2 linked regions of the Homo sapiens genome follow. The protein of the gene in region 1 interacts with the protein of each later gene in a biochemical or structural test. Each region holds a gene or a part of one and is shown in the gene's direction. Other genes may lie near its edges.

Region 1 (5,158 bases):
CTTGGAGCTAGATGAGGTGGAAGACTTCCTTGGAGAGCTGTTGACCAACGAGTTTGATACAGTTGTGGAAGACGGGAGTCTGCCCCAGGTGAGCTTATCACGGGCACAACTGCAGTCTCCCTACCTGTAGTCTTTCTTCTCCCCAGCTGTCTGTTTTGGGCCAAGACTCTTGACTATGACTCTGTTGCCTAGAGGAAAAAGTGTAGCCTTTCCAAACCCTGCCTTTTCTTTATTTCTATACATCATTCCCATCCAGGCCTGTTCCTCAGCCCCATCCCAAGGGCAGGTCAGGCCAGTCCAGGTCCATTTTCACCCCCGCTCTGGTTACCATTGCTCCCCAATAAGATTACCTTCCCTTTTACATCTTATTTCTTTCAAAGCCCAGTTCTAGAGGATTCCCTGCTAGTTAGGCTCTCTTTTGATGCTTTAGGCCTTCATTTGAGCCCTTCATATGTGGTTGCTTCATTGGTTAATTCCTTGGGGAGGAAAGAGCTCTGTTCTCTTCTGGAAAAATCCAACCTACTCCCCACTGTTGCTTCAAACACGTGCTGTTTGTATAGTAGATATCTGGAAAATCCAAACTGGTTGAATATTTTCTTGGTAGGTGAGCCAGCAACTGCAGACCATGTTCCACCACTTCCAGAGGGGTGATGGGGCTGCTCTGAGGGAGATGGCCTCCTGCATCACTCAGAGAAAATGCAAGGTCACAGCCACTGCACTTAAGACAGCTAGAGAGACTGATGAGGATGAAGATGATGTGGACAGTGTGGAAGAGATGGAGGTGAAGTGGGTGCCCCCTGGGTTGGGGGATACAGATGTTTTCAATTTTCTGGAAGAGCAGCTAGATTCACAGGGAAGTGATAAGGGGATGGTGGTGGTTGGTGGTAGTAGTATTATCCAGAGAGGGCAGGGAACTTTCCTAAAGTTACACAGCCAATCCTGGAAAAGCTGGAGCAGAGCCTGGGTCTCCAGTGGTCAGTGTATTCAGCTCTCTTTTAAATCTCCCCTCCAGGTCACAGCTACGAATGATGGGGCTGCTACAGATGGGGTCTGCCCCCAGCCTGAACCCTCTGATCCAGACGCTCAGACTATTAAGGAAGAGGATATAGTGGAAGATGGCTGGACCATTGTCCGGAGAAAAAAATGAGTGGGGATGATTGGAAATGGCTTTGGGCCCTTATTTGCTGTTCTAAGAGTTGTCTGTAGGGGTTTTTTTTTTGAGGATTGCAGACCTGTGGACTGGTTACCCCATCTCCACCCTCTCCCCTGTTCCTCTGTCTGGCTCCCTCCAGGGCAAGGAAAACCTAGGGTCCTTGGTCTTGGGGGTGGGGGGACCTTTTCCAGCATATTCCCCTGGGCCTTTAGTTAACATCCGAGTGACGAAGCCGGGTTCCCCAGTACAGTGTCTTTTGGGTGCGGTCATTGTGAGGAAGGGGATGAGTGAGTGTGGGTGTGGCTGGAGGAGGAGCTAGATGCCGGTGGACAGTGGGCAGGTGGATTTGGGGAGGAGAGGATCAGCAGCAGCAGCAGTACTCAGTGATAGGGGGCTGGCTGGGTCAGGAATGGTGAGATGAACATGCAAGTGGAAGAGAGAATAGTTGAAAATGTGAATGAAAGTAGCTCTGGAGCCTCTCCCTTACCCCACCCCACACACACGCAACAGCTCTGTACCCCTGCCCAGAACTTGGAACCTCCCAGGAATGCTGCCTTCCTTCAGCCCAGCCTCCAGTCCTGGGTTCCCTCAGGAATTCGAAGACCTTGGCTAGGTGGTGAGCTTGGAAGAGCTGGGCTTTGTTTTCTGTCTCCTCTAACCTCTTTCCTTACTCCTTATCCCATCCCATTTGAGTTCAGGGGTGAGGCTTAAGATCTTAATAAATAATACCTTACTGCTTAATCTGTGGCTTGACCTGTGAGTAGTAGCCTTAGAATCAGCCTTCTGGGAGCTCAGCTTCAGAGTTTACAAGGGAGCAGTTTCTGGGCCCACCCTAGCAGCCTGGTACTTTGGACAACCAAACAGATGAACGAACGGAGCACAGCAGTGCTATGAAAGTTACTGTAAGCCTGAAATAAACTGTATTTTTCTTAAAAAAAAAAAAACACACAAAAAAACACAAAAAACTGAGTATCCATTGTCCTCCCCCCTGTTTCCCTGTCCTGCCCGCTGGCCCTGCCATGGGTCTGGACGATAAAATACTGGGTAGCCTTGGGGCCGGGTAGAAGCTGTAAGCCATGGGAGAGGCAGGAGAGGTCTAGTTGCCACCCCACGTGGAGTTGTACGTGTGAAGACACTGGCTGAGGAGGCAGGGCTGGGTCGGGGCCCCAGGGTCAGTGGCAGAGCTGGCACTTGAATCCAGGTCTCCTACCTCTGGTGCTTTGTGGGGAACTGGGTGGAGGCAGGATCTGTGGTAGGGTATTGAGGGATGAGGGAGAAAAACGACCTAATTCAGGTAGGACTGGCAACGGCTCCCACCCTCCCTGGGGACAGGGATTAATAAAAATTGACATCACTGTAGGAATATATTTTTTAAAAGCCCACGTTTTGTGAAAAGATGAATTAAAAAACCCAAGACCCAGCATTCGGGATTGAAAGTGCCCGTGATGGGAGTTCAAGTATTGACTGAGCTGGGAGGGAAGGGGCTAGAGCCCCCAATCAGACATGGGCAACTAGAGTGTGGGGTGGGGGCTCCCAGTTTGTCCCAAACCCTCTAGGTCTTGTCTCGGGTCTGGGGGGATTCGGGGGGTTCAGCAGTGGCTCCTAAAGCAGCCACCGGTGCCTCCTCCATCTCCCTGTCCTCAGACAGTGTGGGCCCCGGGCAGAACGTGTCCCCTCGGCCCGCCCGGCCAAGCACAGCCATCCAGCGTCGCTGTAGTTCCTCTGTCTCAGGGCTGAAGTACCAGCTGAGGTGGCTCTGGGTGATCTTGAAGACATGCCTTCTGTCAGGCCGCTCCCCTGCCTCGGGCGGTCCCACCTCGAAGCCAATGAGGGGCAGGCTGCGCTGGGCTTTCACATCCTGGCGGGAGGAGGGACAGAGCTGGGGCCACCTTGGGGCTAGACCTTTCCCCCGCCCCAGCTTCTAACTGGTTTTGCATATGCTCTGTCTTCAGTCCCCTACTCAGGAACTCCCCTACTCAGGAACCTTCCGTGGCTCCAGTGTTATCAACAGGAACATGTCAGAACTGGGGCTAAAATGCAGGCTGGTTTAAATACCTGTCTCCCCCCACCCCCGCCTCTTCTCACAAAACTGCTGGGCTAGTCTCTTTAGCATACCAAATAATGTTTTCAGGCCTTTGTCTATGCTATTGCCCCTATCTGCATACTTTTTTTTTTTTTTTTTTTTGAGACAGAGTCTTGCCCTGTTGCCCAGGCTGGAGTGCAGTGGCATGAACTTGGCTCACTGCAACCTCTACCTCCCAGGTTCAAGCAATTCTCCTGCCTCAGCTTCCTGAGTAGCTGGGACTACAGGCACACGTCACCACGCCAGGCTAATTTTTGTATTTTTAGTAGAGACGGGGTTTCACCATGTTGGCCAGGCTGGTCTTGAACTCCTGATCTCAGGTGAGCCACCTGCCTCGGCCTCTCAGAGTGCTGGGATTACAGGCGTGAGCCACTGCGCTCGGTCCCATCTGCATACTCTTACCCACTCCAAATTGGACCTAGCAGTTCCCCATCTCTACTCCTTCCAGGAAGCCAGGCCCACAACTCATCCTGGTTTTCCCTACATACCACAACCACTCCTTGTCTCTAGCCAGTCTTTGTCTCTCAAGGGTTGGGGTTCTGATTTCCTCTTAGAGATAGGCTCACCTTATCTTCCAAGGCTCACCTTATCTTCCAAGGCCAAGGAGAGGTCAAGGACTGGATCTGGCTTTGCCAGGTGGCTGAAAGGACCCGAAGGAGTAGGATGCATACCTGAGGGGCTCCGTAGATATACAGCACCAAGGGTTCATTTTCAGGGACCACGAACCATGCCTTGTGCCATCCTTTGCCACCCTTCTCCATGTAGTGCAGGAAGCTGCAGATGACGCTGTTCTCTGCAGCCACTGAGGCCTGTTTCTGTGGCCAGAGACACCGGGCATCAATGTTGACAGAAGGCCTAGCCTGGCTCCTCCTAGCTTTAATACCTCCTCAGTGTAGGGACTGCTATTCCTATCTCAGATGAAGACGCTCAAGCTCAGGTGGCAGGAGTGATTTGTCCAGTGCCACCCAGTGAATCAGCTAGAGCTGAGATTCAAAGCTAGGTTCGTCTGCCTCATTTGGGCAACGGCTGCTGCCTCTACAGGCCAGTGGAAGGAGTGTGCGGATCTCAGGCATTCTTTCTTCAGTCAGAGCATTCATTCCTCAAGCCATTCACACATTTAGGCCTCATGCTTTTTTCTGTCTTTCATCACATCCATTTCCTACACTCATTGAGAGGTAATCTAGCATTGTGGTTTTAAGGGGGTATGTGGGTGGTTAATGAAGTCTGGCTTAGAATCCCAGCTCTAGATGAAAATGTATTGACTTGGAGAGCAAAGAGAGCTGATGTGAGAATTAAATGAATTAATATATGCAAAGTGCTTAGAATAGTTCCTGGCACAGAGTAAGTACTCTTTTAAGTGTTAAATAAATACCTAGATTTGTTTTTAAAAAAATCTCCAAAATGTGTGTTTGTGCATATATGCCTAGAAAGATAGGATAAGCCCTCACAATGGTAACTTTTGGGTAGAAGGGATACGGTATTTTATTATTTTTTGTTTATATTGGTCTACTTATCCTACTTTGTAATAACAAAAGACAATTTTTAAATTTTTTTTTTTTTTTTGAGACGGAGTTTTGCTGTTGTTGCCCAGGCTGGAGTACAATGGCGCGATCTTGGCTCACCGCAACCTCTGCTTCCCAGGTTCAAGCGATTTGCCTGCCTCAGCCCTCCCAAGTAGCTGGGATTGCAGGCGTGCGCCACCATGCCTGGCTAATTTTGTGTTTTTAGTAGAGATGGGGTTTCTCCACATTGGTCAGGCTGGTCCTGAACTCCCGACCTCCGGTGATTCACCCGCCTCAGCCTCCCAAAGTGCTGGGATTACAGGCATGAGCCACTGTGCCCAGCCAATTTTTTAATTTTAAAAAAATCCAGTGCTGCCACTCATTTGCTGTGTAATTTGGGCAAATGACCCCTCTGGGCCT
Region 2 (6,922 bases), on another chromosome or scaffold:
TCCAAGCTGCAGATAGGATTTTGTAATACTTCTGGCAGCTTCTTTCCTTGTGTACATAATATATATATATACATATATATATATATTTTTAATCAGAAGTTATGAAGAACAAAAAGAAAAAATAAACACAGAAGCAAGTGCAATACCACCTCTCTTCTCCCTCTCTCCTAGGGTTTCCTTTGTAGCCTATGTTTGGTGTCTCTTTTGACCTTTACCCCTTCACCTCCTCCTCTCTTCTTCTGATTCCCCTCCCCCCCTTTTTTAAAGAGTTTTTCTCCTTTCTCAAGGGGAGTTAAACTAGCTTTTGAGACTTATTGCAAAGCATTTTGTATATGTAATATATTGTAAGTAAATATTTGTGTAACGGAGATATACTACTGTAAGTTTTGTACTGTACTGGCTGAAAGTCTGTTATAAATAAACATGAGTAATTTAACACCTCTGGTTGTTTTTGCAGACTTCCTTTGCCTTGCTTTTCTACTAAGAGGGAGGGGTCCTCCTTGCAGTATGTTATACCAACTACTGAACAGTTTAGGAGGTAAACAAAAACGAAGAATTTTCAGCCTAGACTGGGAAATGGAGGAGATTTTCCTACCAGGAAGGAGTGCCTTCAGGATAGGAGAGAAAGTCTGACTTGCCTGTCTACCCAAAGTAGAAATTAATCAAACATTTGTTGAGTACCTACTGTGCACAAAACACATTCTATGCCCAGGGTGAAATAATGCGAATGATGACAATCATAGGGTCTACCACTGCTTGAGCATCTCATAAATGCTAAGTACTCATTGAATTGTAGAAACACCTACAAAAGGATGATCACAATTATTGGTAAAAAAATAAAAGCCCAAGAGAGAATAAATACCTTATCCAAGGCTCATCAGCCAGTAAGTGACAGAACCAGAATTTGAACCCAGGGGTGTGTGATCCAAAGCATGTGCTCATCGCTTTATGCCAGGGAATGCAGCCAGTGAAACCCCTAAGCTAGAAAAATCCAAAGTAGGAACATAAATTTGTTTCTGTCTTAAATAGTAACTATTTTCTGTTCTCTTCACTCTGAACTTTTTTATGTTCTCTTCCATCTACCTCATTGCTATTCCATATAGTAATGTCTGCCTTCTGTTTTCCACAAGATTACAGTGAAGTGAAAATTAGAGACACTCCTATCTAGAGTCTATTATTTTCCATGTCCCACTGAAACTGGCAAATTCAAAGTCAAAACAGACAGGAAAGCTGGAAGTGGTGGAGGACACCTGTCCTCCCAGCTACTTGGGAGGATCACTTGAGCCTAGGAGTTTGAGAACAGCCTCAGCAACACAGGGCAACACCATCTCTACAAGAAATTTTAAAATTAGCTAGGCATGGTGGTGCATGCCTGTAGTCCCAGCTACTCGGAAAGCTGAGACGGCAGGATCACTTGAGCCCAGGAGGTCAAGCCTGCACTGAACTGTGATCATGCCACTGCAGCCTCCAGACCCATCTTAAAAAAGAAAAAAAAGCGCTGGGCACAGTGGCTCATGCCTGTAATCCTGGCACTCTGGGAGGCTGAGGCAGGCGGATCACGAGGTCAGGAGATCAAGACCATGTGGCCAACATGGTGAAACTCCGTCTCTACTAAAATACAAAAAATTAGCCGGGCATGGTGGTACGTGCCTGTAGTGCCAGCTACTTGGGAGGCTGAGGCAGAAGAATCGCTTGAACCCAGGAGGCGGAGGTTGCAGTGAGCCAAGATCGCACCACTGCACTCCAGCCTAGGCAACAGAGCAAGACTCCATCTGAAAAAAAAAAAAAAAAGTCTGGGCACAGTGGCTCACGCCTGTAATCCTAGCACTTTGGGAGGCCGAGTCGGGTGGATATCCTGAGCTCAGGAGTTCGAGACCAGCCTGGGCAACATGGCGAAACCCTATCTCTACTAAAAATACAAAAATTAGCTGGGGCCGGGTGCAGTGGCTCACACCTATAATCCCAGCACTTTGGGAGGCTGAGGTGGATGGATCACGAGGTCAAGAGATCGGGACTGTCCCAGCCAACATGGTGAAACCCTGTCTCTACTAAAAATACAAAAATTAGCTGGGCATGGTGGCGCCCACCTGTAGTCCCACCTACTCGGGAGGCTGAGGCAGAAGAATCGCTTGAACCCGGGAGGCAGAGGTTGCTGTGAGCTGAGATGGCACCACTGCACTCCAGCCTGGGTGACAGAGCAAGAGTCTGTCTCAAAAATAAAAATAAAAAAAGAAAGGAAAAGAAAAAAGAAAGTAAGAAAACAGATTTTAGCCCCAAGAAGTGGGTTAAAGGTTAAAAGAAACCATGATGGGTTGCTGGAGGGAAGGTGAATCTGGTGTGTTCAAACTCTAGAGTGAGTCATAAATGAACAATGGTTTCCATCTGTACCATCCTGGGTCTGAATGCTAGGAGGTCCCCTTGCCACCCTAGTGTCTTCAACTTTGGAGACAACTGGGTGGTTGGCTGTGGACAGCCATTCCTGCCAGGCTGAAGCTTGCTTGCTTTTTTTTTTTTTTTTTTTGAGACAGAGTTTCGCTCTATTGCCCAGACTGTAGCACAGTAGCCCAATCTCAGCTCACTGCAACTTCTGCCTCCCGGGTGCAAGCAATTCTCCTGTCTCAGTCTCCCGAGTAGCTGGGATTACAGGTGTGCGCCACCAGGCCTAATTTTTATATTTTTAGTAGAGGTGGGGTGTCACTATGTTGACTAGGCTGGTCTTGAACTCCTGACCTCAGGTGATCCGCCTGCCTTGGCCTCCCAAAGTGTTGGGATTACAGGCGTGAGCCACTGCACCCAGCCTAAGGCTTAAGTCTTTCCGATGGCTCTTCAGAGGTAAATGGAGCTTACACATAATCTTTCAATTAGGGGTCAGATTCACTAATGAGTGGTGAAATAATTTTCGTGGTTTTTGATCAGCATTTATTAAAATAGAGAACAGAAAGATTAAGTAAAAATAAAGAATAGAACATACCAGCACACCTATGACAAGGGTAAGTATCGTTTCATAAAGCTTGTGTTTCAGTTTTGCATGTGCATGTAATCGTGTTTGTGTGTGTACTGGGTACCAATGTAAAATGTATTCGTGCTATGAATCTGGGTGAAAAACGTTTAAGTCATTAGTCCAGGCTATTCCTCCATCCATTTGTTAGGTGACATACAGCATAGTACAGCGGAGCCAGAATACCTACTGCACGTCAGTTCTTCAATCTTTTTTTTTAATTGATTTATTTATTTTTGAGACAGAGTTTCGATCTTTTTACCCAGGCTAGAGTGCAGTGGCGCGATCTCGGCTCACTGGAAACTCCGCCTCCCAGGTTCAAGATTCTCCTGTCTTAGCCTCCTGAGTACCTGGGATTACAGGCGCCCACCACCAGGCCGGGCTAAATTCTTCAATCTTTAAAGTGAGGATAATAATAGTAGCTACCTATAGGCTTGCTCAAAGTTAAATGAGTTAATATTTATAAAGACGCTTACCACAGGGCCAGGCACTGTGCCAGAGATAAAAAGATGAATGAGAAATAGCCCCAGCCTCAATGCACTTCATTGTGGGATTTTCTCCATATTGGAAGGAGGGATTCACAAAATGCTTGTTTCCTCTCAGGCCTTCCTCTTCGTAATCCTACACCTACCTAGTAGAAGGACTGTCAGAGAAATGAGCCCAGGGCGTCCCCCGGTGGCGCAGCGCCGCCTTCGGTCTAAGCACTTGGGGCAGGGGGGAAGGGGGGGAGGGGGGAGCCTCTTGGCTTCGCACTACAATTCCCACCAAGCATCTGTCCCTCTCTGGCCTCTAATAACGAGTGCGCCTTGTGGTCCAGCGTCTGGCAACTTTCACGCCTAGCGTCGCGTATACCGGAAAACTGCATCGTCCAGAATTGCTTCCGAGTCGGCGCGGCGCAAGGCTTGCTGGGAGACACATAACCTCGATTTTCTTCCGCCATCCGGCTAAATAGTCCCATGTGCACTTTGTTCCATGGATAAATAAACACTAGGAACGCATTTCCACCCTAGATTTCAGCAGAAATGCTGAATGTAAAGGAATATTTGAGTAAAGTGAGTTGCCGTTCTTGAAGCCCGTCTCCTAAGGATTCTCCCGGTGTCCGCGTAGGGATCTCATGCTATATAGGAGGGCCCTGCCAGGCACCGTCTCCTCTCTCCGGTCCGTGCCTCCAAGATGGTGAGTCTTCTTGCGTGGTGAGGGTGGGGGTTCGGGTGCAGACTCTGGGATTGTGGGGAAGTGAGAGCCTGGAGCACGGCTGAGGGGTGGACCGAGTGTACATTTCATTTGCTCTGGGGGTCGGCGGGATTTGCGGAGAAACAGGAGATCCGAGCGGCGCCTTCCTGGAGGCTGCCGGTGCGGCTTGTGGCCGGAAAGGGACTGAGGCTGGGTGAGTTGCGCCGTTTTCCTAACAGTTTTCCCATCCTGTCGCAGACAAAGAAAAGAAGGAACAATGGTCGTGCCAAAAAGGGCCGCGGCCACGTGCAGCCTATTCGCTGCACTAACTGTGCCCGATGCGTGCCCAAGGACAAGGCCATTAAGAAATTCGTCATTCGAAACATAGTGGAGGCCGCAGCAGTCAGGGACATTTCTGAAGCGAGCGTCTTCGATGGTAAGTGGGTCACCGGCGCGAACTGTGTGAGGATCCCAGTATCTTAAAGCCTTCGCCCAACTTCGCCCTTTTGGAGGCTCTGTTCTTTGGAGCCTCTCAGGCAATTTCCACGTATTTAAGGTTGTTACTGGTAGAAGAGAATTCTCTTGTTTGCCGTTTTGATTCTTTTCTGGGCAGAGGGTGACTTTGTGATAGAGTGCACAGCCTTTACTCTGAGGTAAAGGTTTGCCTGTTTCGGTTATGAGATTGCAAAAACTAGAAACTTGGTAAATTTGACAATTCTTGTGCTATTGATTATTTGAATATTTGTGAAAATATACAGGTGAGGAAGAATGTCTTCAACGTTTCGAGAATGGAGGCCGTCTAGTTTGGTGTGCAAGGATGATGTTTGGAGCAATAAGAACGTCGCTTTGTTTTTTTCCTTTTATAGAAAGAGCAAGGTTCAGGGTAGGCATTAGGGCGGGTGTAGGTGTAGAAGGAACTGGATTATTGGTTTATTGCATTTAGAATGTCAGTCTGGTCCTTGCGGTGTCAAGATGAACTCACGTGGGATGTTAATTCACTTGTAAAACTGAGGGTTATACATATGTGCTCAGGTATTGGGCTGAACAGGTGCTTTGGGGGTGCTTTTATGTGCCCGACAGGCATTTAAATAGGTTTAGTTTTAATTGACGTAAACATGTAAGGTGCTCTTCATTCATGTAACAAAAAAGCAAGGTAGGTATATAATACCAGTATAACTCTATTTTCTATTCCTTAGCCTATGTGCTTCCCAAGCTGTATGTGAAGCTACATTACTGTGTGAGTTGTGCAATTCACAGCAAAGTAGTCAGGAATCGATCTCGTGAAGCCCGCAAGGACCGAACACCCCCACCCCGATTTAGACCTGCGGTGAGTATTTTAAAAGGAGAATGGAAGCCAGGGGAGTGATGGTTAAAATTTCATCCTGGAGGGTCAGGGTGTCCTATACCTGTAACCTCAACACTTTGGGAGGCTGGGACAAGAAGATTGCTAGAAACCAGCAGTTCAAGACCCCATCTCTTCAAAAAATATTGAGAAGGAAGCCAAGCATGATAGTGTGAACCTATAGTCTGGCTGCTCGAGAGGCTGAGGCAGGAGGATCACTTGAGCCCAGGAGTTTGAGGTTGCAGTGAGCTATGATTATACCACTTGCGCTCCAGCCAGGGCAAAAGTGAGACCTTGTCTCTTAAAAAAAAAAAAAAGTTGCTTCCTCCTGTGGTGCAGGGGGTATCAAATTAAGGTCTGTGCCTCAGGTTAAGCTGTAAGGCAGGTGAGACCCACACCTGAACATGCTTAGAGACACTGCAAAGCAGTGTTAGAATCAGAATTGGTTTTTAGGATGCAGAGTAGTGTTCTCCCTCCACCTCTATCAGCTTCCCATGCATTTGTAGCCTGAATACATCAGTTTGTGAGAGGATGGTGGTCAAGTTCTTTGGGGGAAGGGAGTCTTGGATCCATGGGTTTTAATTTACTCTTTTGTTTCTTTGTCTTTCAGGGTGCTGCCCCACGTCCCCCACCAAAGCCCATGTAAGGAGCTGAGTTCTTAAAGACTGAAGACAGGCTATTCTCTGGAGAAAAATAAAATGGAAATTGTACTTAATATTGCATGTTAAGTGTATCTGTGCCAGATAAGGTGGGGATTTTGTGTGTTAGACCAAGTGTGAAGTGACACACATTATTTTCATGGGGAAGAAAGCTTATTCATGTAATTTAATTTTTTTCTTTTTTTTTTTTTTTTTTTTGAGACGGAGTCTTTGTCGCCCAAGCTGAATTGCAGTGGCGTGATCTCAGCTCACTGCAACCTCCGTCTCCCGGGTTCAAGTGATTCTCCTGCCTCAGCTTCTTGAGTAGCTGGGATTACAGGTGTCTGCCACCATGCCTGGTTAATTTTTGTATTTTTGGTAGAGATGGGGTTTCACTATGTTGTCCAGGCTGGTCTTGAACTTCTGACCTCAGTTAATCCACCAGCCTTGGCCTCCCAAAGTGCTGGGATTACAGGCTTGAGCCACCTCGCCTAGCTATTTATGTAAATTAAACTTTAATTGTGGTCGTATGGTTGGCCTCACAATTCGCATAGCTGTGTGAAATGGAGATTAGGCATCTGAATTTTGGATTTAACCACATCAAGTTTAAGTTGGCATCCTAAAAATGGGTAAACATTAGGAGAATGAGGAAAAGCTATTAGTTGAGTGAGGAGCACATTGGGAAGTGACCTAAACTGAGGTGTTTATACCCCTGGAGGGGGAACTTGAATAGTGGATGTATGACTTGGATAGCTTCAGAGCATAAAAGGA

What was found. The genes of interacting proteins can lie anywhere in the genome.
Region 2: the proteins of TSR2 (region 1) and RPS26 form a complex in vitro, tested with the Homo sapiens proteins (one study listed by BioGRID).

Annotation. Positions count from the first base shown.
Region 1 is NC_000023.11:54,443,404-54,448,561, forward strand, and holds the end of TSR2 (pre-rRNA-processing protein TSR2 homolog), read left to right. Parts: coding exon 1-88; intron 89-604; coding exon 605-781; intron 782-1,012; coding exon 1,013-1,147; 3' UTR 1,148-2,705; coding exon of another isoform or gene 2,706-3,011; 3' UTR 3,012-3,907; coding exon of another isoform or gene 3,908-4,051; 3' UTR 4,052-4,629; downstream 4,630-5,158. Other genes in the region: FGD1 (FYVE, RhoGEF and PH domain-containing protein 1), read right to left, coding at 2,706-3,011, 3,908-4,051. UniProt on the Homo sapiens protein: May be involved in 20S pre-rRNA processing.
Region 2 is NC_000012.12:56,037,996-56,044,917, forward strand, and holds RPS26 (small ribosomal subunit protein eS26), read left to right. Parts: upstream 1-3,922; 5' UTR 3,923-4,171; coding exon 4,172-4,174; intron 4,175-4,429; coding exon 4,430-4,607; intron 4,608-5,367; coding exon 5,368-5,498; intron 5,499-6,123; coding exon 6,124-6,159; 3' UTR 6,160-6,702; downstream 6,703-6,922.